Linked DNA regions of Homo sapiens. The protein of the gene in region 2 interacts with the protein of the main gene of each other region in a pairwise test. Each region holds a gene or a part of one and is shown on either strand. Other genes may lie near its edges. The genes, in order: SGSM2, PNO1, FRZB, RXRG, SUPT5H, PDPK1 and ATP5F1C.

Region 1 (3,500 bases), on a different chromosome or scaffold from region 2:
GAAGCCTAAGGGGAGTGTGACATATTCTGAGGACATCCTCTGCAGGGGCGGGGAAAGGGAGAAGCAATTGATTTTGTAGCATGGGAATGGGTGGGAATGGGGAAGCTCCCCTCGTCTCTGGGAGAACTGGCCTCAGCCTCTTCCTACCCACCCCTTTCTGGAGCACCCATCCCAGCCCTCACAGGTCGCCTGGCTGATTGCTTGCTGAAAAGAGGGGGGCTCCCTCTCTACCAAGCCAGCTCTGTGCTAGGAAAGATGGGTGGTAGGCAGAGGAACCCTGAGAGGCTGAGGGCACTACGCTATCACCTCCAACAAAGGTGACCTCTCCATTCGTGGACCCTGAGACTCATGAGGGCAGGAACACATCTGTCTTATATCCCTGGCGCAGGTGAAGAGACGGAGCTCCGGGATAGTGAGAAACTTGCTCAAAACCACACAGTGAACCAGGGGCATATCTGGGGCGGGAGTTCATGTTGCCAGGCCCTGAGCCTGGCCCCTTCCTGGACACCATGCTGCAGCTATTTCTAGATTTCATGCCAAAGTACCAGGCCCTGCCGGCTGGGGCCCTCAGGCCTCCTGGGAAGACTGAGCCCTGGGGCCCTTCGCATGGCAGCCCTCAACCCCTCGCCTGACCCACAGCTGCTGCCCCTGCCCCAGGAAGGACCCGGTACCTCCATCCTGTTTCTGTTAAGTCAGGAGTCAGAAGCACCAGGCCCAGAGGCTGGTCTTCCCAATCAGCAGAGAGAAAGGAAGAGACCTCTGTCTGGCATTTGCCAGCCTGACCCCCGGAGTAGGAATGGGCTCAGAGATCCATTCAGGGTGCCCAGGAGGCAATCAGATAATCAGACCTTCCTATTAGCAAATCCTCTTCCTCCTCACAGCCTGGAGCCACCTGCCCTGGGCCAGCCCCTTTTCTTGCCAGCACCTGTCTGGCCTCCTTCTGCCCTCCCTGATCTGCCCCCGATGGAAGGGAACTGCCCTGGGTGCAAGTCCCCTAATGCCAACACTGCCGTTCGAACCCCTGTGGTGGGTGGCAGGCGGGCCCGGGAGGGAGGGTGGGGATGAGGTGGGTCAGGGAGAGGGAGGGATAAGAACCTTTCATCGGATTGGGAGCTGTGAGGTTCCGCGAGCAGATCATTGAGAGCATCGCGTGCAGTTTATCCTCCTCTTCCTCATCATCGTCCACCGAGGCCGCGCGGCTGGCCGCTAGGTGGTGGTAGTTAATAGTGACTGCTCAAAGAGAACAGCGAGAGGCAGAGGCATGAGGCCCTCATCCCTGGGCAGGACGGACTCCCTCCTTAAGGGGAGTGGAATGGAGGCCGGGGTCATCGTGAATCTGCAGGGCACAGAAGAGGGGAAGGGAGGGGACCAGAAAGCTCTTTGGATGATTTTCCTGGGAGAGTGTGGAAGGAGGCGAGGGGCTGGGGCAGCTGCAGAACCTCACTCTTCGGAGGCAGCCTCTCTAGGAAGAACAGAAGAGAGAGAACAGAGGTGGGAGGATGTGAAAGACCGGGACTGTCTGGGATGGGCTGGCAGCCCAGGAGGTCATCGGCCCTCACAGAGGCTGCGCATGACAGCTGGCAGATGGGTCCTGATCGTTCTCTAGCTCCTCTCAGGCTGGACCAAATCTGAAGATTACTCCAAATCCCCTTTTTCAGACTATAAATTCCACCTTCTTCCCTCCCAGGAAAAGGAAAGGGTTTTCCCAGAGCTGTCCTCAAGGAGCTGGAGTCGCTTGGTGGAGTTTCAGCCTCTGGGTGCCCTGGCTTGCCCTTGGCGAGGTGGTCCTGGAAGTGAAGTGACCAGGACTGGGAAATGGCAAAGATCGAAGAGGGGAGGCAGAGACTGGAGAAGCTAAACCAAGCAACAGCCTGAGACTAAGTGCCAAGTGTGTAAATACATTCTGGCCAAAGATGCGTCTCTTTGTCAGGTACATCTGGGAAGGGGGGACATCCCTGTGCCGTGTGCCCTCTGAGCCTGGTGGAGCTATCTGTGCTGTGGCTGAGTGTGCCGTCTGGGCAGTCCGGTCCCTAATACAGAGACAACTTGTTGACAACTTTTTGGCACAAGTTGGAAATTTAGGGAGCGGGTGGTCTTGTTAGCAATAAACGCTCTGGGCTGGCAAATTCCCCGACCTTATCTGTAAGAAAAGCAAGTCTGCCCAGAGAAGCCTATGGGCAGCAGCAGCACTCTGACCAGAAAGGGAACTTTGGTGTTGGTAGATGCACATAGACAGAGAGACCCCCTTGGGCCCAGGGGTGTGTGTCCAGGGTGGGGCAGGACCCACAAGGGCCAAGCCGCCTTTCTACCCGCCAGTGCCCAAAGCCCCCAGGCAGCCCCGAGTCTGCCTCTGATGCAACCTGCTACTTCAGCTAACGCTCATCAGTAGTTGGTTTGAGGAGGGCTCTGGCTCTAGGGGAGTCAGCAGACAATATTCACCATCCAAAAAGAAGCGCTGGGCCGGGCGCAGTGGTCACGCCTGTAACCCTAGCACTTTGGGAGGCTGAGGCAGGCAGATCACAAGGTCAGGAGTTTGAGACCAGCCTGGCCAATATGGTGAAACCCCATCTCTACTAAAAATACAAAAATTAGCCGGGCATGGAGGTGTGCGCCTGTAATCCCAGCTACTCAGGAGGCTGAGGTAGGAGGATCGCTTGAACCCAGGGGCAGAGGTTGCAGTGAGCTGAGATCACGCCATTAAACTCCAGCCTGGGTAAAAGAGCGAGACGTCGTCTCAAAAAAAAAAAAAAAAAAAAAGTAGCGCTGGTCCCATACCCAGGCTGTCTTGTAGGGGTTGGGGAGCAGGAGGTGAAGAGCAATGGAGGGTTCCCCACCTTCTACTTCTCGTTTCTCCACGTGTTTTACCCCTGGACAGGGTCTGAAAGGATAACTAAGAGTCTTGTGTAGTGACGCCTAGGTCTGCTGAGCCAAGAGTCCTGGCGTGGAGAAGTGGGGAAGGGAGCTGGGTAGAAGAGACGCACCTTTTCAAAGGCAATATCTGTGGGTAAAAGGTCCAGCTGAGAGGCTAGGCGATGAGCCTCTGGTGTTAACCTGGCCTGGTCAGTGGGCCCTGCCTGCTGCCCTCCTGGGTGACGCTGCGCTCCCCGCCTCCCAGAGCGTCTTCCTCTCCTCCCCCGGGATGAAGCTCGGGACACTCACTGTGCTCGTGCCTGTGGCCGGGGTAGATGATCCGGAACACATAGTCGGTGGCCCGCCCCGTGCCCATCTCCTCCATATCCACGGAGCGAATGCTGCTTCGTTTCCGTAGCTTGGGGAACACTTTCCCCTGTGGAAGGAGGGGTAGGTGGTCGGGCTGTATAGGGCAGAGTCTCATCCAGGGTTCCACACAAGGCCGCTCCTAAGAACTCCACGTGGGGAAGGAAGGGAGGCGGGCAGAGAACCCCACACACAGCCCTTCCCCTAAAGCCTCCCACCCGAGTTACCTTCCCTTGCTGGGTCCACAGCGGGGGCTCTAGCTGTCCCCGAGGCAGCAGCCCATT
Region 2 (3,500 bases):
TCCCAAGTAGCTGGGACTACAGGTGTGGGCCGCCACACCCGGCTAATTTTTGTATTTTTTTGTAGAGAAGGGGTTTCACTATGTTGCCCAGGCTAGTCTCAGACTCCTGAGATCACGCCATCCACCTGCCTCAGCCTTCCAAAGTGCTGGGATTACAGATGTGAGCCACCATGCTTGGCCATATTTTTAAATGTGGTGTGCATTTGCACATTTCCAGTTCAAAATAGCTTCTCCCAAGGCTCCATATTTCTGACTCTAGGCTCAATCCATAAAAGATCAAACAATATAATTATATGCCTGGCTTCAGGTAAAGAGGGCCACCAACACAGTAGTATAGTTATCCTTAAAGTGTAAAGAATGTACAAAATTTAGGTTCTATATAATGAAGAGTCCTTCAGTATGGAGCAAAATTGAGATATTAAATGAAATTATTTCAGAATTTAGTCATAGGCAGAACCCTCCTCCTCTCAGTCAACTGTTCAGTTTCCCAACTTCATGGCATTATATAATCTCTGAGCCATCTGCCAGTAAGATCCCCAGCCTGGGCAGCTTCAACCTCAGACAGGGGTAATCCCAGCTTCACTTCTGGCACCTTTATTTTAAGCCCCTCTCATCTTGTTTATGTTCACATATAACTGCTCTCTAGTTTTGCCTAATGTACGATATTCCCCTCCTTTTATAAAAGGCCTTAACATATATATGTATATACATAAAGTAGATATATACTTCTAAAGACTCACAAGGGCATCTGAAATAGTGATTGCTTGTTCTCCCCTAGTGATTTAATAGATTCCCTTGAGTAAGTATGTATGTATGTATGTATGTATGTATGTATGTATGTATGTATTTATTTATTTGAGACAGAGTCTCACTCTGTCGCCCAGGCTGGAGTGCAGTGGCATGATCTCGGCTCACTGCAACCTCCTCCTCCTAGGTTCAAGTGATTCTCCTGCCTCAGCCTCCCGAGTAGGTGGGACTAAAGGCGTATGCCACATGCCCGGCTAATTTTTGTATTTTTAGTAGAGAGAGGGTTTCACCATGTTGGCCAGACTGGTCTCGAACTCCTGACCTTAGGTGATCCGCCCGCCTCAGCCTCCCAAAGTGCTGGGATTGCAGGCGTGAGCCACTGTGCCCAACCCGAGATATTATTTAAATCTTCACCTGTAATAATTTCTTTTAATAGCATTTCCTCATTGTTAAATGAGAAAAGAATATATAATTTCTTAAATTTTCTCAACTTAAGCCTCTTTCAAAGTTGGTGACCATCTATTCACCCAAAAGTATACAGATGATTCCCAACTTAACACGGTTCGAACTGGGATTTTTCAACTTTACAAGGGTGCAAAGGTGATACACATTCAGAATGCTCTACTTCAAATACACATACAACCATTCTGTTTTTCATTTTTAGTACAGTATTCAATATTCAACACTCTGTCATAAAGTAGAATTTGTGTCGGATGACTTTGCCCAACTGCAGGCTAATGTGTGTTCTGACCATGTTTATGATAGGCTATGCTAAGCTATAATGTTCCATAAGTCAGGCATATTAAATGCATTTTAGACTTATGATATTTTCAATTTATGATGGATTTATGAGGAGCATCTGCACTGACAAAGATTTAGCAGCAACATTATGCATAAAATACAACTGTTATGACTTTCTTAAAACAAAAGATCAAATATAAATTATGACAATAATTTTCTCAAGATCAGATACTTACACATCAGCCAAAACTATCCTTGTCCGTGTCACATTCTCTATGGTGAATTTGGTTTTTCCTCCTTTGCCAGCGATTCTTCCTATTGCCCTGGATAGATGGTCTCCCTTTAGGGGTTTAACTAAACAAGAAAAGCAAGATCTCAGGAGGCAAGCCATTCTAGTGTACCACCCATTCCACATAAAGTTTAATCATAAACTAAATTTCTCTAAAGGACACAAAGTGTATATATATATATATAAGTTGCTAAAAATACAGCTCAATTGATGCTATTAGAAAACTGAGAGTCACATCACAATACAAAGTCAGCGACACAAGAGCGCAGACCAACACACACTCACCATCTGTAATTTCAAAAGACTCTAGGAAGAGGTCATCCAACCTGATGAGGGCAAGTGCATCCTATAATATAAAAACAAACACCGTGAAGCCCCTTCCATTTGCACACCTGAAAAAGAGTAAAGTGCAAAGCACTATGGAACTAAAATCCACAAACTCTAGAGCTAGAAAGCTTTTTTTTTTCCCTTGGAGACAGAGTCTTACGCTGTCGCCCAGGCTGGAGTGCAGTGGCGTGATCTTGGCTCACTGCAATCTCTGCTTCCCTGGTTCAAGTGATTCTCCCACCTCAGCCTCCCAAGTAGCTGGGACTGCAGGCATGCACTACCACACCCAGCTAATTTTTTTGTATTTTTAGTAGAGATGGAGAGTATCGCCATGTTGGCCAGGATTATTTTGAACTCCTGGCCTCAAGTGATCCACCTGCCTCAGCCTCCCAGAGTGCTGAGATTACAGGTGTGAGCCACTGTGCCTGGCCTTTTTTTTTTTTAATGCCTAATCCATTGAAATGTTCACATTGAATATTTTTAAAGTCCCCATTTTAGATATCATGGAATTACTCACCTCCACCTGAAAGCCGAGAATAAAAGCTTTCACAAAATCAGCTGCTTTTGTCAGAGCACTAACATCCTTGGTTTCTTTACAAGTCTGTTAAAAAACAAAAAAGGGTACAAAATACCGTTGAGAATCAAACAGAAAATGTCCTAACAAAATACTGGAAATGTCCTTTCCCATTATTGGAGAATTTCCTTCACCACCACCTTTCCCTAATATATTCTGTATGACACAGGTTCTGGTCAGATAAGTGCTGTACTTTATTTGCAAAACAAAACGTTCCCAGCTCCAAAGCTTGGCTGTTCCACCCAAAGAGTGTCAAATAACTAACCGCACTATATGATCAGATTTTGGGGTTAACAGCAAGACTCCTCTGGCACAACCCAATCTCTCCCATTCTGAAGAACCTCTACCTTCTGTCCATCCCTTCAATGCCCAATGTCCTCTTCTCTTCTCTCTCAAGGCAGTCTTCCCTGGGATTCCTGACTTAATCTTCTTAGTTATCATTTATATGCTGATGTTTCTTAAACCAACAGCTCCAGGCCTAACTACCTGCATGCACTGATTGGGGAAATAAAGAATGAATGAAGCACTGAACCTGTCCTCAAAGTTTATTTGAGAAATGCAGAAATAACTGTTATTCATAAAAAGCCTACCACTGTAAATAACACGTACTATAAATAACATGCTTTACACACCATAACTCTAACCTTCACAACAACTTTGAATGTTAAGTGATATGACTACCTTCGTATGTGAGGAAACTAAAGTACTAAAAAGCAAAAAAGGTAAGATTTAAACACAGGTCTGATTTCAAAACTGTTATTTCCACTGTCCCATGCACATTCACAGTCTAGTTGAAGAGACCACGTATTCAACAAATGTAAA
Region 3 (3,500 bases), about 110 Mb from region 2:
AGTTATATTACATGAGGATAGGTAGGGAATACGAACTACAGCTGTACTTCCCAAACTTCAAACACGGATATCATATGGGGAATTTGTTAAAATTGCAAATTCTCATTTAGCAGGTCTGAGACAGGGCCGAAGATTTTCATTACTAACAAGCTCCCAGGTGATACCTATGTTGCTGATCCAGGGACCACACTTTAAAGAGCAAGCACCATCAGATCCTTGGGTCAGATGGCCCAAGTTCAAATTCTAACTCCACCACTTACTGTGTGAAGTTTCTTGAACTTACTAGACCTCATTTTCATCATGTATATGTTGGAACTGATAATAGAATCTACTTATAAGTAGATACATCTGAAGATTAATAAAAATATAAAGTGCTTAGCACATAGTAAATGTGTTATTGTTTTTCTGTTACTGAAGGTAATTCTTCATTTCAGTATTCTTTACTCCACAATCTTGTCTTCATATTTTAAAAACAGTCTGATTCTCAACTTCCCAAGGAAGTCCAAACATCTTGAATCGTCTGCTATAAGAGACTTAGGTAAACAACCATTTGCATGAAAAAAACATAATAATGTTTCTTATAAAATTATTGATTCATCCACTGAGAGCAAAACTCAGCTAAGAGCAAATCTGATTGAAAAAATAACATCCTCCATAAAACTCTTTTTACACATCTTCAAATTGACTGGAAAACTAAAATAGGAATCTCAATAATTCTGGCCAAAGGAGATTTTCTACCCAAACTCTTTAGCCCTCAATATCTGCATATGAATTTAAAATTGTTCAAATTATTGGTTTCTTTCCTTTAGAATATTTAAATCCAGACTGAGAATATAAATGACTTTACAATAATAACTCTGCAAGTCCCCTGCGGAAAACAATGGGAAATATTGCAGAAAGCAATGGGAAACAGGACAAACAAGCCATGTGTCCTGTCAACAACACAATGATATTGTTTTGGTACCAAAAGAGGAGCAGTAAGCCTTGTTACATGCTTCGCAGCAGGGATATTGAAAGCTTTTCCAACTGGTACAGGAATTTAGGACAAATTCCAGTTCTGCATTAGCAAGCAGAAAACCAAATTAAAGACAGTAAGAGATTCCAACATACTGAACAAGAGCCACTTTTTTCTTTAATAAACACCAAACTAATTGAAGAGAGATGCAGAGAGAATGCCCGCAAGTCTGAACTTGAAATGCATCTCCCTTTTGACAAATCTACTAAAGGGGAGAAGAACTTACTGGAGGGTAGTTTCTCCTTACAAAATAATGCCCTCTACATTTTTGTAGGTCACTTAAACCCAAACGTGTCTGCCGTGTCAAGTGCCAGATGTATAAGATAAACCGCCCAGGGGTGTTTAACTTACCATGTAAATGTTTCCCAAGCCTTCAAACTTGCAGAAGGAAGAGGATGTATTATGTTTGGTACAGTTCCCACTCCCCCCACCCACCCACACATCCTTTGAGATTTTTTTGTCCCCCCATGCATTCCCCCACCCCATTCTTTTCTTTAAAACAGATTTGCTTAGTGCAGTAAGAAGAAACAAAACCTTCTATAATACAGTACTGTACTATGTGATTTTAAAAAATGTATCAATTCCACAATCTAAGAGTTATTTGGCTTAAAAATAAGGCTACATTACTGCTCTAAGGACCTAATTTATTCAGATCTCTTCTATACAGATGAATGTAGCTACACTTTGTACATAGGAATTGCTGTTTATTCATCGGACATCATTGTTTATTTTCCTTCCCATCATTTATTCTCCCCTTCTCACAAACTGCAGTTTGTTCAAAGAAGCAATATCCCCAGGTTTAAAAAGACTACATTTTCTAGCCTGTTTTGCAGCTAAGTAAAAACTGCTTGATGAGGCTCTTGGAAATCCCTTTTACCTCCTCTTTTTCCTGCCTGAAATGTACATGTGATACTAGAGGCAGAGCAGCCATCTTGTGACCTCCAGGTGAACATGAGTATGAAAGCGATGCCTTTAAAAATGGTAGAGTGATAAGCTAGAAGGAGCCTGACAACATGAAACCACCCTACCAGGACTGGACTACAGCTAGACTCCTTGTGAAGAGACATTAGGGCAACTGTAGTTAGATCTTTGATACACATACAGGGAACTCATTCCTTAAATAAAATAGACATTAAAGACAAATTCAGCTCTTGGAGTATATAAATATATGCATACTAAATTTTAATATTTCTCATATGGTTGAAGGCAGCTATTTCATTTCAATGACAGATGGCTGGTTTTCTACTTTTGTTTTGTTTTCTGTGTATTACTTCAAACATAAAATACAGGCTTACCTTAACTTTTTTACCGAGTCGATCCTTCCACTTCTCAGCTATAGAGCCTTCCACCAAGAGTAATCTGTATTTTTGAAAGAAGCAAACATTTTTGAAAAATTAAAACCTGTTACTGAAAAGTACAAGGAAACAGTACTTGAACAAGAAAGACTTATATGTTTATTCTTGAATAGGACAGCTAAGATTTAGAACAGTAATTATTAACCATTTGTAAGTCACAGACCCCTTTAAGAAACAAATGAAGTTATGGCCCCTCTCCCAAGAAAAATGTAAACCTATAAACTACACGCATACACCCATTCCATATATGAAATCAAGAAACCCAACTAAAACTTATCTGTAATCCCCAAGAAGGTAGACAGATCCCAATGTAAAAATGCGAGGGTAGCATCTCTAGAGACAAATTTAATGAGAGTAGGATAAGCAAAGTAGTTATTCTGTATCCTTAAAGAGTGAATTACCTGGAACGTTCCTCATCTTCATAGCCCATGATGATATATTCCTCATTAACATTAAGTGGAGGGCAGAGGCAGCCAGAGCTGGTATAGAGGTTGACAGTGTCCCGTGGAATGTTTACCAGAGAGGACTTTAGAATCTCCTTCACCTCCACTACTGCAGTCACATCATGGCACTTAGTCTTTATCTCTTTAACTTTAGCCCGAATGACTGGGATAAAAGACAAGAAAAGCTGATAATAATATGACACATAATAGCTACCCCATTCAAAAAAAGCCAAAGTAGGCTTCTCTTTAGTTAATTCTTATCCACTTGATATTCAACGAATGGAACAGAAAAGTCAGCCAGATATTTTTGCCTTAGACTGTAGTGTGTGACATAAAACAACACACCTGACCTAATGCTCAGCCCTGCTCTCTTTCCAATTTGTGGCTGTGTATATATTTGCATGTATTTATGCATGTGTGTGCATGTGCTTTTGAGAAATCCATTTAGAGAATCAAAGATTGAGTCAACAATCTGATACAATTTTTCTCTAAAATTCCATTTTGGATGTGTATATATGCATGTGCAGTTCCAATTGCTGCCAAGAGGAATTTAAACTATGTTAATTTTACTATATGAAAAGACCTAATACTTAAATATGCTTTATTCCTTGTCGACACTGTTTTATCAGGTCCATTAACAGGTTTTCTCAAGTAGTGGGCCTCTGTAATGTTATAAAATTGTCCTGC
Region 4 (3,500 bases), on a different chromosome or scaffold from region 2:
AATTATAATTGAGACCCAAGTTCTTAGGAAACCTATTTAAATTTATTATCCTTTACCATAAACTATGAACAGAATTCTGAGTTATGAATTGTTAAGTGCTATTGACTGTTGAGGAAATTAATTGCTGTTTGATCTTTATATCATCATATGACAATCAAGCTATGACATAAAGATCTGATAGAAGCTGATTTTGCAGCCGGGCATGGTGGCTCACGCCTGTAATCCCAGCACTTTGGGAGGCTGAGGTGGGAAGATCACTTGAGGTCAGGAGCTTTTAGACCAGCCTGGCCAACATGGTAAAACCTCGTCTCTGTTAAAATATATATATACAAAAATTAGCCGCGCATGGTGGCACATGCCTGTGGTCTCAGCTACTCCAGAGGCTGAGGTATGGGAATCACTTGAACCCTGGAGGCGGAGGTTGCAGTGAGCCAAGATCATGCCCCTGCACTCTAGCCTGAGTGACAGAGCGAGATCCCGTCTCAAAAAAAAAAAAAAAAAAAAAAAAAAAGAAGGTGATTTTGCTTAATCCAGACTAATTTGTTGCATATTTCATTGCCCTTATTACCTGTCCACACATGCAGTTTTCAATTACCCCAGGCAGGGGTGGCTAATTTAGGTCAGGAGAGCCACCAAGCCCATCCTCAGACAGGCATCATGAATCAATCACAATCCTTTTTCTAGGTAGAAGTCTTCTTAATACCAGGCACTATGCTTGATTGATTGAAATTGCAGAACTTCAAAAATATAAGGAAACAAATCATTCAAAACATATTTGTGTCTGATTCTTTGAATGTAATATGTGATGTCATTGAGTTACAGAAATGACATGACTTTCTAATTCTGTTTTACTTAGGTTTCCAGCATCTCAGGAGTTTACAGTTCAGAGGAAGCCACTGTAAGATGAAATGATGGGTACAGATAGCCTGCCTGAAGAAAAGCCAGCCTTTGCCTCATTGGTTGACCATACTACAGGCCGGCTTTTCACATTGCTGAACTCACAGCAATGATAAATACAGGATTTTATCTTGGGCCCAGAAAACCTAGTGCTCTCAGTTCTGAAATATTTGTCTTAGAGAAATATGGGACCAATTTTTCAACTGTGTGACATAGTCATTCCCATGGCTTTTCAATATTTAAATGAACCTCATAGACTTTCAACTAGAATAAGCATAGCAGAGAAAACACTGTCGGGCTGTGGCTGGTGTGCTATTATGGCAATGGCCAAGTCTGCATGATTTGGGAAATATTTTTTGAGAGCAAGAAAACATCAGCCATTCAGCTAGGTAAGTTCTAGGTGCCTGGAACTTTCAATGGAGTGACATTCTTTAGTGGCTTTGGTGGCATTAAGAGTATAAGGAAATATTCAGTTAGCCATCATGGACAGCTATAGAAAAGAGAATAACCTCCTCTTATTATTGTTCTTCAAATAATCAAATCGGAGATTCGGATGTGTTCAAAATTGATGGGGAGGGAAATATGGGGCAGGAAGAATGGAGAGGAAAGAAGCAAGGAAAGAAATAACTGAGAAAAGGAGAAGAGAATCAAAGATAAGTTGGTGAAAACACATTTATTTCTGCCTATAAAAGCATATTGAAAATCTAGAATGTTATAGCAAGAAATACGCTAAAATATTAAAGGGTTTATTTTTCTTGGGGACATTATGGGTAATTTTTTTACTTTTCTTTGCAGTTTTCTAGTTCGTTCAAATCCTCTACATTAGGACATTATTTTTACAATTGCTTATCTGGGAGGGGTTATTCTTAATACTTTTTTTTTTTTGAGATGGAGTCTCATTCTGTGGCCTAGGCTGGAGTACAGTAGCGTGATCATGGCTCACTGCAGGCTTGACTTCCCAGGCTCAAGCTATCCTCCCACCTCAGCCTCCCAAGTAGCTGGGACTACACCAAAGCACTGGGATTATAGGTGTGAGCCACCACACCCAGCAGAAATACTTGATAATCACAACAGCTTCTGTCTCTCAGATACATGTGTAATAGTGTGACTCCAGAGAAGGGTTTCTGAAATGTTTCCTGTAAATCTCATCCTCAAAAAATAAAGCCATCCTTTAAATTCATCAAAACGGCAGCCTGTGAACCCAGTGACATAAACGTATAGGTGGGTCCCCAGTTAGCCCATCCTAAAGGGCCATTTTCCTTTCATTGAGTACAAAGTATCCAGGCAGACAGTGAGCAGCCCCTTCTCTGTGGCACTTTTCAGGGAGTGTCTGCTTCTGCATGTACCTGAGGATCTGTCTCCACAGATGGCACAGATGTGTTTAACCAGAGATCCGGGGCTGGTGGATGGGTAGTTCATGTTTCCAATCCCGGGAAGCCCTGGTAAGGGCTTGATGTCCTCTGAACTGCTGACACTGTTGACCACATTTAGCTGCAAGAGAAAAAAATACTGTAAAGCACAGAGCCAGAGTAAATTCAATCCCCAAGGCCTAAGGCAATGAGGGCTTACTCAAGAAAAAACAAGTTCTATTTCAAGAAACAGTTTCCAAGTACAGAGTATTTGAAACTGCCTATCTGTGAGATGAACTTAAGGGAGGGATAAAAGTGCCATAGGAGGAACAAAATTATTTCTAGAAGCCAAAACTTAAACCAAAAATCACAACACATCTCCATTAGAGTCTATCTGCTTTTATTCATTTTACTCATATGTTTTATTTAAGCTAGAAATCCATGCCAAATTACACACCCAGGACAATGTCAACTGTGTATTTTAAAATTTTTATCAACTATTGACTGCCTATTCAGCCGTGCTGCAAGAGGAACTACGACCCTCAGGCTAAAGACTTACACTCTAAGAGAGCCAAGCAAAAAAATGCAAATTCATTCATTAGTCAATCAACAGATATTCCCTGGGCACTCAGAATGCCAGACACTGTGCCAGGCTCTGGGGTACAAAGGCAAAGAAAAATACACACCCAGAAGGAGTTCACGGTAAAATGAGAAAGGACATGTGTAATGGTCATCTCTGCAAGCACACTGAAGATGCTAACTCGAATACATCCCTTATTGTAAGTTAATATCAGCTCCCCATCACCATCCCTGTATCTCCCAGTGCTCTTGGTAAGATTCCTCAGAAACTGAGGCTAAGTATCTTGTGTTCACCAAAGAAAGCAAATTGAATACATTTGAGCCACTCATCCAATCAGCAATAGAAACCCAGAAGGTATATCTCTCATTCCTCAAAAATGTACAATGTCATCAAGGAGTCAGAACATGCACAAAAAAATAAGAACACTTACAAGCAAGTTCAAACGAAGGTGGTGCAGGATATGCATGTTCGTAATTGTCCAATAGAAGTAAAGGTTTAGTGGTTAGGAACTACTGACTTCCCATGGTTTGTCTGAATTTTGAATCATATTGCCTAACCAAAGGGACAATAATACTCAAACTGAATCAAAGGTATGATTTTCCTCTCTATTCAAGGCCTTTGGGACAGAAGAAAGGTTCAATAAAACAGAAACTACAATAGAGCCTAAGCTAGGT
Region 5 (3,500 bases), on a different chromosome or scaffold from region 2:
CCTGACCTCTTCCCCTCCTCCACTGCAGTCTCAGCATTCCAAATCCAAAAACCCAAAATGCTCAAAAATAGGAAACCCTGTGAGCACCAACATGATGCTCGAAGGAAATGCTCACTCTTGGATTTTCAGATTTGGGATGCTCAACCGGTAAGTATAATGCAAATATTCCAAAAGCTGAAAAAATCTGAAATCTGAAAAACACCTGTGGTCTCAAGAATTCAGGTTAGAGACACTCAACGTGTATTAGGGTCTTGGTCCTATCCCACCAGCACTGCCATCTGGGTGGGATGTGCTACAGCAGCAGCCTCCTCCCTGGTCTCCACGCTCTTGCCCATGGCCCCCTCCAGGCTATTCCCGGGTTTCTCAGCCTTGGCACTATTGACTTTTTGGGCCAGGTAATTTTTTGTTGTGGGCAGCCATCCTGTGCATTGGAGGATGTGTGTGTCTAGCATTTCTGGCTTTAACCTGCTAGATGCCATAATCGTCAACCCCCTCCCCAGCTGACATAACCAAAAATGTCTCCAGACGTTACCAAATGTCCCCTGGGGAAACATCACCCTGGCTTGAGAACCAGTGGTCTAGTCTCAACACAGTCACCAGAGAAATCTTATTAACATTGAAGTCTGCCTGTGTCCCTTACAGCCCTCCCATCCTACGCCAGTAAACACCAAAGCTCTCCAATGGGCCGCAGGCCCTCGTGAGCTCCCTAACTCATCTCACGCCATCCCTGCTGTAGCCAGTGACTGTGCCATCCTATCTCACAGGCCACTCCTGCTGCCTACAACACTCCTCCCCAAGAGCTCCACATGCCTCACGCCCTCCGATCCTTCAGACCTTTACTCAACACGCCTGGGAATGTGCACAGAAGACAGCCAACCGTTTCCTGTGTGCTCACAAAACCCAGGCTCTGCTTCAACTCATCTGAGTGGGATTCTATTCTCTGCAGCACAAAGAGGGTGGGAAGGACAAAAGGAAAGGAAGGGAGAACAGAATGGAGGGACCCTGACCCCCATGCCACCCCGCCCCGGGCACCTGAGCAATGTCATCCTTGTAGATGCCCCGCTTGAGGCGGACCCAGGACTTTGGTTTCAGGTTGGCCACCTCCTTCACCACTTTGAGCACGTCTGTCATCTCCTTGATGGGCACCATCTGCTGGTTCCAGTAGCCAAGCCGCAGGTTGCCCACCCCCTCAATGGCCTGCTTCACGTGGGTCTGCTTGTAGGCCTCCACGTAGATGTAGCCCTTCACATGCTCTGGTGCCACTACTGACTTGATCTGCAGGGGCTGCAGGGTGAGCCGGTGGAAGGAGGAAACAGTGAGACACAACGGCTAATAACAGAAATGACTGCCACTCATCAGCAGTCCCTCTTCTAGGAATTTATTCCACAGAAACACACTGGCACAATGACATGGACACAAAGGTGTTCCCTGCAGAATTATTTATCACAGCAAACAAACCAGACTAAAAATTTTAAAAATATCCAGAAACAGTAACTAGTTAACTTATGGCTTAATGTACCATGAAATACAATGTTGCAGTTAAAGAATACAAAAACTAGCTGGGTGTGATGGCACATGCCTGTAGTCCCAGCTACTCAGGAGGCTGAGCAGGGAGGACTGCTTGAGCCCGGGAGGTTGAGGCTGCAGTGAGCTGAGATCGCACCACTGCACTCCAGCCTGGGCAACAGAGTGAAACCCTGTCTCTTAAAAATAAAAAATAAAATAAAAATTAGATTAACCTGTATGTACTAATATAGAAAGCTATCCAACATATGTTCTGTGTAAAAAAGCAACTAGAGCCGGGCACGGTGGCTCATGCTTGTAATCCCAGCACTTTGGGAGGCCGAGGCGGGTGGATCACTTGGGGTCAAGAGTTCAAGACCAGCCTGACCAACACGGAGAAACCCTGTCTCTACTAAAAATATCCAAGATTAGCCGGGTGTGGTGGCACATGCCTGTCATCCCAGCTACACGGGAGGCTGAGGCAGAAGAGTCGCTTGAACCCGGGAGGTGGAGGTTGCGGTAAGCTGAGATCGCACCATTGCACTCCAGTCTGGGCAATAAGAGCAAAACTCCGTCTCAAAAAAAAAAAAAAAGCAACTAGAAGAAGAACCAAGAAAGGAGTGCTTACATCAGACAAAATATACTTTAAGACAAAAATTGCTACCAGAGACAACAAAAAACATTTTGTAACAATAAAAAGGTCAATCCATCAGGAAGATAGAATTACAAATGTATATGAAACTAACAGAGCCTCAAAATACATGAAGCAGAAACTAATGAAAATGAAGGAAGAAACTGACAACTCAACAGTAACAATCACTGACTGCAATACCCTGCTTTCAATCATGGATAGAGCTAGACCCAAGATCAACAAGGAAAGAGAACACTTGAGCAACACTGTAAGCCACCTAAACCTAATAGCCAGCTATAGACAGAACATTTCGTCTTCACTTTCCACTTATTAAGCGGAAATGGGAAAAAAGAACACTCCATCTAACAACAGCAGAATGCACTTTCTTCTCAAGGGCATATTAAACTTTCCAGAATAAACCACAGGTTAGGCCATAAAACACGTCTCAGTAAACATAAAAGAACTAAAATCATATAAAGTATATTCTCCATCCATATGTAATGAAGTTAAAAACCAACAGAAAGATACTTAGGAAATTCACAAATACATGGCAACACACTCCTAGATACCAAAACTTATGAGATTTGAAAAAAGCCATGCTTAGAAGTAAATGTATAGCTGTAAATACCAACTAAAAGAAAAAAAAGGCCAGGAGCGGTGGCTCATGCCTGTAATCCCAGCACTTTGGGAGGCCGAGGCAGGAGGATCACTTGAGGTCGGGAGTTCAATACCAGCCTGGCCAACATGGTGAAACCTTGCCTCTACTAAAAATACAAAAATTAAGGCCGGTTGGCCAGGCGCAGTGGGTTCATGCCTGTAATCCCAGCACTTTGGGAGGCTGAGGGGTGGATCATCTGAGGTCAGGAGTTCAAGGTCAGCCTGGCCAACATGGTGAAACCCCATCTCTACTAAAAATACCAAAAAAAAAAAAAAAAAAAAAATTAGCTGGGCATGGTGGTGGGTGCCTGTAATCCCAGCTACTTGGGAGGCTGAGGCAGGAGAATCGCTTGAACCCGGGAGGTGCAGGTTGCGGTGAGCCGAGATCGCATCATTGCACTCCAGCCTGGGCAACGGTGCGAGACTCTGTCTCAAAAAAAAAAAAAAAAAAGAAAATTAAGGCTGGGCACAGTGGCTCACGCCTGTAATCCCAACACTTTGGGAGGCCGAGGTGGGCCGATCACCTGAGGTCAGGAGTTCGAGACCAGCCTGGCCAACATGCTGAAACCCTATCTCTACTAAAAACACAAAAATTAGCCAGGCGTGGTGTCGGGTGCCTGTAATCCCAGCTACTTGGGAGATTGAGACAGGAGAATCAGTTGAGCCTGGGAGGCAGTGGTTGCAGTGGGCCAAGACTGCACCATTACAT
Region 6 (3,500 bases), on a different chromosome or scaffold from region 2:
TCAACTCCCTCTTCGTGCCTGCAGTCGTATCTTGAATCCAGCAAGTTTCGACTGCATTGTGGACTGTGGCAGCACAGGATGACCAAGCCTGAGGCTGTGCTGCAGCCGGAGGCTTTGTCTCTCAGCTACCGTGTGGCCTCTCCAGCCTCTACAATGCAGCTTCTAAGAGCTTCAGTGACTCTTTAATTTATTGTCTGAAAAGCTGTTACAAACAACATTGGATTTTAAAGAGCTCATCACACATATTTTTGAAATGTTCCTTTTAAGTGTAAACTATTCCATGTAAATTTAAAAATTCCTTTTACCTTTTTTTTTTTTTTTTTTCCAATTTTGAGACAGGGTCTCACTCTGTCACCCAGGCTGGGGGGCAGTGGCAAGCTCTCTGCTCACTGCAGCTTCAACTTCCAAGGCTCAGGTAATCCTCCTACCTCAACCTCCCCAAGCAGCTAGGACTACAGGTGTGCAGCACCATGCCTGGTTGATTTTTGTATTTTTTGTAGAGACAGGGTTTCAGTTTCTTGCCCAGGCTGCTCTCGAATTCCTGGCTCAAGTGATCCACCCACCTTGGCCTCCAAAGTGCTGGGATTACAGGTGTGATCCTGAACTTAACTTACCGTATTCTCATGTAGGCACAAGGAAAACTTCAGGATTTCAAAATAATGATTCAGTGGATGATAAAATTACAGAGGCTATAGCAGGTATAAATGAAGAGATAGTAAGAGCTCAGTAGAAATATTGAATATTAATCTCAAAAAATGCATACATTGGCTGGCGCGGTGGCTCACACCTGAAATCCCAGCACTTTGAGAAGCCGAGGTGGGCAGATCACTCGAGGTCAGGAGTTCGAAACCAGACTGGCCAACATGGTGAAACCCCTTCTCTACTAAAAATACAAAAATTAGCTGGACGTGGTGGCATGTGCCTGTAATCCCAGCTACTCAGGAGGCTGAGACAGGAGAATCACTTTAACCCAGGAGGCGGAGGTTGTGTGAGCAGAGATCACGCCACTGCACTCCAGCCTGGGCGACAGAGCAAGACTCTCTCTCATTTAAAAAACAAAACATATTGATACCAAAAACCTATGACCTTAGAAAAGACCAAAAGCACGCAGATTCCATTCTACAGCATGTGACCACTGAAAAACTCACCATACACGCACAGAGAATGACAGCAAAAAGGCAAATAACATCTTAGTATTACAAAAAAAACTGCCCTGACCTCGGGGATTTGGTGGCCACACACTGAGAATGCAAACCACTACTGTAAAGAGCAGGTGCTGGACAGACCTCCCAGCAGCCAGACAGATCCTGCAAGATCTCAGGAGTCATCAGCTTCCCAAAAGGACCTAAAATCTGAAGGAAGTGGGAAGGGGAAAGAGAAACCTGAAGACAAAGGAAGCAGGCAGGAGAATGTGTATCCTGACTTGCCGCCATCACCAGGCTAAGGTACCCAGACGGACCCCAAGGCCCTCTAAGAACAGCCCCAGGCAGAGGGGCCTCTTCTGGGAGTCACCAAAGGAGCTGAAACACACACACACCTGCAGACAGCACCTCTCAGCTGGGATCTGCAGAGAGAGCGCTCCTGGCCAAGTACTTGGAGTGGCCACAGCAGCCCTTCGTGGGGACCCCAGCACACACGAGCCCGGGAAGCTCCTTGCATAGCCAGGCACACGCCTCCTTGCTGCTTGGAGCTGCGCAGCACAGCACGGCTCAGATTGCTCCCATCAAGAGCCCTCCTCTCCTGCTCAGTACACATTAACATCTCTAGCAATCACACTAGGTGTGATTCAGAGCCCCTAGCTGTAGACTGTTGCTGCCTGCCAGCATCTCTGCACAGGTTTTCTAGAGACAGGTGTGGCGAACCGCATAGAGCCGTGGTCTTCCCCACCTGCCGGGGCGGCCCAGAGCTCAGCTCCTTCCTCTCATTCCTCCCCACAAGTCTCTCAAGTCACATGTGTCCTGTCCCTGCCTAGCCAGGCCCTCAACTCCCCCTCGTCTTGTGCTTCCACTCCAGCATGCCTTCCTGCAAGGCCCTCTCCCCACCCCCTTGGGCTCCTCTCTGCCCACACAAAAGGGAAAAGCAGGTAAAAATATTAGGGGGGAAGCCCGTCTTACCAGATTAAAATGGAAAACATAAAATATAAATAGGGACAGGATGGACTTGGTAAGAATTTGCAGCTTCCATACAAAAACACAGTATCGAGACTGGAGAGAAACTGAAGAATGTTTGCAAAACATACAACAAGGAATAGTCTCCATACACGTGGCTTTTAAAAATCCATGTTAAAAAGAGGCACCAGCCTGGCCAACACAGGGAAAGCCTGTCTCTATCAAAAAATACAAAAATTAACCAGGTGTGGTGGCAGGTGCCTGTAATTCCGGCTACTTGAGAGGTTGAGGCAGGAGAATTGCTTGAACCCAGGAGGCAGAGGTTGCAGTGAGCTGAGATCGCGCCACTGCATTCCAGCCTGGGTGACAGAGCAACACTCTGTCTCAAAAAAAAAGATGCAAAATATACAAGAAAGAATAGTCAAAGGACACAAAGTACCTCAAAAAAGAAACACAAATGGTCATGAACACAGGAGACATCTGCCTCAATAGGAATAAAACAGAAATTCACAAGTTTGTTTTTGGAGCATCAAAACACTCTCAGGCAGGCAAGAGCATTGGGAAAGGCAGATTCCTGGCGCCCCCGCGACAGATCCCCAGCCCTGAAAACACGCACGCCCTCCATCACACACTGCCCCTGGCACTCACCTTAGAAGACATAAATGGACAAGTGGGGAAAGCTATGTGGAAAAGAGGGGCTACAACAGCAAACCTCATAAACTCCCAAGTGGCCAGGTCCAGGCCGCGTCTGTCCATACCACAGTGACTCCATGGCCACAACCAGCAGGTCCAAATGCCCGGCAGAGGAGGGGAGCGCCCGGCGGTCACAACCCACTCAGCCCCTGGGCCGGCTGCCTCCTAAGCACCTGTTTCCAACTGTGCACTTACGATGTGCTCCTTGGCCAAGCGTCCAAGGCTGCTGAGGGAGGCAGTGACAAGGCAAAGGCACCCACCATAAGCCCCCACGTGTTCACGCTGCAATTCTGCAAAAAGCATTGCTTATGTCCATAAGTTCTTACCAAGGGTTTCCGCCAGCCTGCTTCTCCAACAACAACCTCTTCTCATCTTCGGAAAACTGTAAGTCCAGTTCAAAGGAGTTCGAGTCCAGATCGTGAATGTACTGCTCTATGTTGCTGCCTGACCTCTGGGGCAGGCCCGTGTCGGAGGCTGACAGGGAGTGTGAGGAGGAGGACGAAGACACCTGCATGCAGCCAAACTGGCTCAGGAGATTGTCATACTGCAGAGAAGAAGGGAAAGTGAGAACCGCACCTTCACTTGCCTCTAAGGTCCTAAAACCCCAGCCCCTCCCGCACTGCCGCTGTCAGGCCTTGGGAGCTCGCACACAGCAAGGCGCAAGGCGACAGGGTGGGCAGCCCTGATTCTCCTCCATGG
Region 7 (3,500 bases), on a different chromosome or scaffold from region 2:
GTCAGTTGAGATACTGAGGATTTGGTAGATAAATAGGGGGTTCACTGCATGATCTTCTTTACTATCAAATATGCATAAATCTTCCTTAAGTTAAAAATTCTTTTAGATAGCCTCAACTCAGGATAAGACAGCATGATCATAAAAAAGTTAAGAGAAAGAATGTAATTACAAGTTAAAATAGAAACTTCTTTCCCATTTCCAGCTCTTTACAACTTTATTTCCAAGATGAATTCATAATCAAACAAGTATAAAAGCATCTAAAAACACAATATAAATTCTTTTTAAACTGTCATATCTCATCTCTTTTCCATTAAGAAGACTAATTAAGGATGGATTACATAAATTTCTGAAGGAAAAATGTCTTCATGCTTTTGAAAAGATAAGAATGGTGATTAAGTATCTTGAAAATGGAGGTTCTCAGCTGCTTTTCCTGCTTCAACATCGTTCGGATTCTCAAAACACCATCATGAGTCATATCCATGACCACAAGGCCAGCTCTCCACTGCACTGCCCCTCACCCGCCCCCGCTGCAGTCCTAAAATGCCACACTACAAGGTCATAGGATGAAATTAAGCCCTTACATCTAACGCACGGTTTCCAAGTTCTTCTGATGGTATACTTAACAACTGGGAACATTTCAGAATATTTTAAAAGTTAACATGGTCACGTATAATGGCTAACAAATACACAGACTCGACACCAAACCACATAGGTCCAAACAGAGGCTCTTCATCCTTTTATATGTGATCTTAGGCAAGTTACTTAACTTCTGTGTGCTTCAGTTTTTCTCACTGGAAAGCAGGGATTCTAACAGTCCCTACCTGTACTACCTACACGGGTTGTTATCATTACGTGTCAAGTGGATGTAGATGAAAAATAAGTACATGGCAAGTGCTCAGATAGGCTTGACATCACTGTAAGCTCTAAATGTAAGTCATCAGTAGTCTTCCTTGTGTGAAACAGTTCTTCCTAATTTGTGAATTACACTCTTCCCTTACCTAAAGATCCCAATCCATATATTCGAGCTGGTTTCAGCTCTCTCTCAGCTCGGGCATATTTTGCTGCCGCTACCATTTTCATAGACTTGGTAATTTTCTGGATGTTTTTGATGGACTTTAGTCTCCTGGTGACTGAAAAATAGAAGTACTGTGTTAAGACAAAGGAATTACAGTATAACTTCCTTGTGAATTTATTGACATATTTTTCTGAAGTGCAAGGCAGAATAATGAGCGCTTAGATAAACAATAAACAGCACGATGCTAAACCAGTCTTAATATTAGAACTAGTACTAATAGCCGGGCACGGTGGCTCACGCCTGTAATCCCAGCACTTTGGGAGGCTGAGGTGGGCGGATCACGAGGTCAGGAGATCAAGACCATCTTGGCTAACACGGTGAAACCCCGTCTCCACTAAAAATACAAAAAATTAGCCGAGCGTGGTGGCGGGCGCCTGTAGTCCCAGCTACTCGGGAGGCTGAGGCAGGAGAACGGCGTGAACCCGGGAGGCGGAGCTTGCAGTGAGCCGAGATGGCGCCACTGCACTCCAGCCTGGGTGATAGAATGAGGCTCCATCTCCAAAAAAAAAAAATAGAAATAGTACTAATAAAAGGAAGGCAAAACTAGCTACTACTTAGGACAAGCAAATGGCAACATAAGACAATAATATACATTTAAAACATTAAATGGTATTGAAAGTTGCCTTAACCACATATTCCATAACATTATTTATATATAACATGATTTACCCCTTCCCACACATACACCCACCTACACCAACACTGGTATAATTTTTTCTAGTTATATCATGATCATTCTACAAACAACAGAACATAGCTGTCTCAGGTGTCCTTTCTTACTGGTCTTTTCAGAACAAGTCCAATGTCCCAAACATACAATGGAAATCCATTTGGTCAGTTTTGATCAAATACACAATGGGCTAAAGCAGTATATTTTTGAAAGTATTTGTATTTGTCAAAATTTAGTTTTTCTCAATTCACATATTGAGACAAACAACATACTTACTATCTTTCAAAGTTGCCATATTTCGAACTTGAATCCTGAGGATAAAAGTTTTAAAAATGTTTCAGTTTTTTGAAAAATAGTTCCATTATACAAGAAAAACTTTCAGTTAATATATATTTATTTAAAGAATACCCCATAAAGAAACAATCTATCAAATACAGGACTCAGAATGTATATGAATAGACATATATTTAAATCCCTTAGTAGTGGCGCAAATCCCTGTATTGAAGGCCTCCTTTTATTTGGCCTGTCTGTACCACCACCTTCCCAGAAGTCAACATGCTCTATTGACTCACACATGCTCTAGTCCCACCTCCATATCTTTGCTTATCTTGTTTCCATGACAGAAAAGCCCCTCCCCTTGTTAAGCTGCCCAACTATACTTCGAATCAAGGCCAGCCACTCTAAAAATTTCCTTAGTTCACAGCAACCTCTTCCAGTAACAGAGTCAATGATATAGTCGAACATGACTACACGTGTAAAAGTAGTTTATATAAACTGATTCTTAACTTTTTCAATTTAGCTCAATAAACATTTACCAAGATGCTCTAAATTCCAGGCACTGGTAAACACGACATGGTCTCTGACATATTGTTACCTTGTAAACAAGGTTCATAAAAAATTACATTTACATAACATTTAGTATTTTTTTTCAAGTCTTTAAAATTGAAATGCTAATGTGCAGAAGTCAAAATGATTAGGCTTAAATGAAATGTTGGTGAAAGATGAATATGAGAGAATTCCTGGCCTAATGGGGGAAGACATGCTAAAAAATATTAGATGATCTTTCTGCCTTCAAATCCATACAAAGTGCCTGTGTTTGCAGGCAAAGCTACACAGGAGAACTGAGCATGATGAAATGTGTGCACAAAGTAGAGATGTGAGGAGGGGATTCTCGGGAACAGAATGTCATTTTAAGAGCATTCATGATCAGGAAAGAGTGAGAAATGGAGAAGGGGAAACTGGACACATGAGTTGGGTTTGTTACTTTAAATAATTAATATTTTTAAATATCAAAAAAAGCAAATTGGTTTAAATCTTATTTGTAGGTTAATAGGGAAATGAATGTTTATAAGCCCACAAATCAGTTTAGTATTTCAGCAAAGTATCTCACATGGCAGTGACAAGCGTAAAATGAGGTTGGAGTTTTGATGAACACAGAAGACATGGGGATGTAGGCTGCCACAGCCTCAGGAGAGACCTCAAGAACCTGGATGAAGATGCTGGCAAAGCAATAGGAGACTAGATTTGCAAGCATTTAACTTCTTCACATGTACATTCGTAGTAGAAAGGAAAGCAGTAAGAATGATCTAAGGTTTCTCTAATTGAATGACCTTGGTGGACAGTGACTAATATCTCTCATGAGCATAGGTTAGAGGCAAAAATCCTCAACAGTGTATTAGCAAATCAAATCCAACAATGTATTAAAAATAATTATACACCATCACTACGTGGGATTTACTCCAGGTATGCAAAGCT

Evidence for each region.
Region 1: the proteins of PNO1 (region 2) and SGSM2 interact in a two-hybrid assay, tested with the Homo sapiens proteins (one large-scale study listed by BioGRID and IntAct).
Region 3: the proteins of PNO1 (region 2) and FRZB interact in a two-hybrid assay, tested with the Homo sapiens proteins (one large-scale study listed by BioGRID and IntAct).
Region 4: the proteins of PNO1 (region 2) and RXRG interact in a two-hybrid assay, tested with the Homo sapiens proteins (one large-scale study listed by IntAct).
Region 5: the proteins of PNO1 (region 2) and SUPT5H interact in a two-hybrid assay, tested with the Homo sapiens proteins (one large-scale study listed by IntAct).
Region 6: the proteins of PNO1 (region 2) and PDPK1 interact in a two-hybrid assay, tested with the Homo sapiens proteins (one large-scale study listed by BioGRID and IntAct).
Region 7: the proteins of PNO1 (region 2) and ATP5F1C interact in a two-hybrid assay, tested with the Homo sapiens proteins (one large-scale study listed by BioGRID and IntAct).

What each region holds. Positions count from the first base shown.
Region 1 is NC_000017.11:2,365,001-2,368,500, reverse strand, and holds part of SGSM2 (small G protein signaling modulator 2), read right to left. Parts: coding exon 3,444-3,500; intron 3,287-3,443; coding exon 3,160-3,286; intron 2,999-3,159; coding exon of another isoform or gene 2,862-2,998; exon of another isoform or gene 2,835-2,861; intron 2,127-2,834; exon of another isoform or gene 1,688-2,126; intron 1,463-1,687; coding exon of another isoform or gene 1,441-1,462; exon of another isoform or gene 1,345-1,440; intron 1,337-1,344; coding exon of another isoform or gene 1,271-1,336; exon of another isoform or gene 1,237-1,270; intron 1,231-1,236; coding exon 1,096-1,230; intron 1-1,095.
Region 2 is NC_000002.12:68,160,888-68,164,387, reverse strand, and holds part of PNO1 (RNA-binding protein PNO1), read right to left. Parts: intron 2,706-3,500; coding exon 2,622-2,705; intron 2,124-2,621; coding exon 2,063-2,123; intron 1,843-2,062; coding exon 1,725-1,842; intron 1-1,724. UniProt on the Homo sapiens protein: Part of the small subunit (SSU) processome, first precursor of the small eukaryotic ribosomal subunit.
Region 3 is NC_000002.12:182,835,638-182,839,137, forward strand, and holds part of FRZB (secreted frizzled-related protein 3 precursor), read right to left. Parts: intron 2,977-3,500; coding exon 2,772-2,976; intron 2,375-2,771; coding exon 2,311-2,374; intron 1-2,310. UniProt on the Homo sapiens protein: Soluble frizzled-related proteins (sFRPS) function as modulators of Wnt signaling through direct interaction with Wnts. They have a role in regulating cell growth and differentiation in specific cell types.
Region 4 is NC_000001.11:165,417,627-165,421,126, forward strand, and holds part of RXRG (retinoic acid receptor RXR-gamma), read right to left. Parts: intron 2,389-3,500; coding exon 2,244-2,388; intron 1-2,243. UniProt on the Homo sapiens protein: Receptor for retinoic acid. Retinoic acid receptors bind as heterodimers to their target response elements in response to their ligands, all-trans or 9-cis retinoic acid, and regulate gene expression in various biological processes.
Region 5 is NC_000019.10:39,462,582-39,466,081, reverse strand, and holds part of SUPT5H (transcription elongation factor SPT5), read right to left. Parts: intron 1,285-3,500; coding exon 1,033-1,284; intron 1-1,032. UniProt on the Homo sapiens protein: Component of the DRB sensitivity-inducing factor complex (DSIF complex), which regulates mRNA processing and transcription elongation by RNA polymerase II.
Region 6 is NC_000016.10:2,586,521-2,590,020, reverse strand, and holds part of PDPK1 (3-phosphoinositide-dependent protein kinase 1), read right to left. Parts: intron 3,346-3,500; coding exon 3,128-3,345; intron 1-3,127. UniProt on the Homo sapiens protein: Serine/threonine kinase which acts as a master kinase, phosphorylating and activating a subgroup of the AGC family of protein kinases.
Region 7 is NC_000010.11:7,794,677-7,798,176, reverse strand, and holds part of ATP5F1C (ATP synthase F(1) complex subunit gamma, mitochondrial isoform L (liver) precursor), read right to left. Parts: intron 2,057-3,500; coding exon 2,022-2,056; intron 1,131-2,021; coding exon 999-1,130; intron 1-998.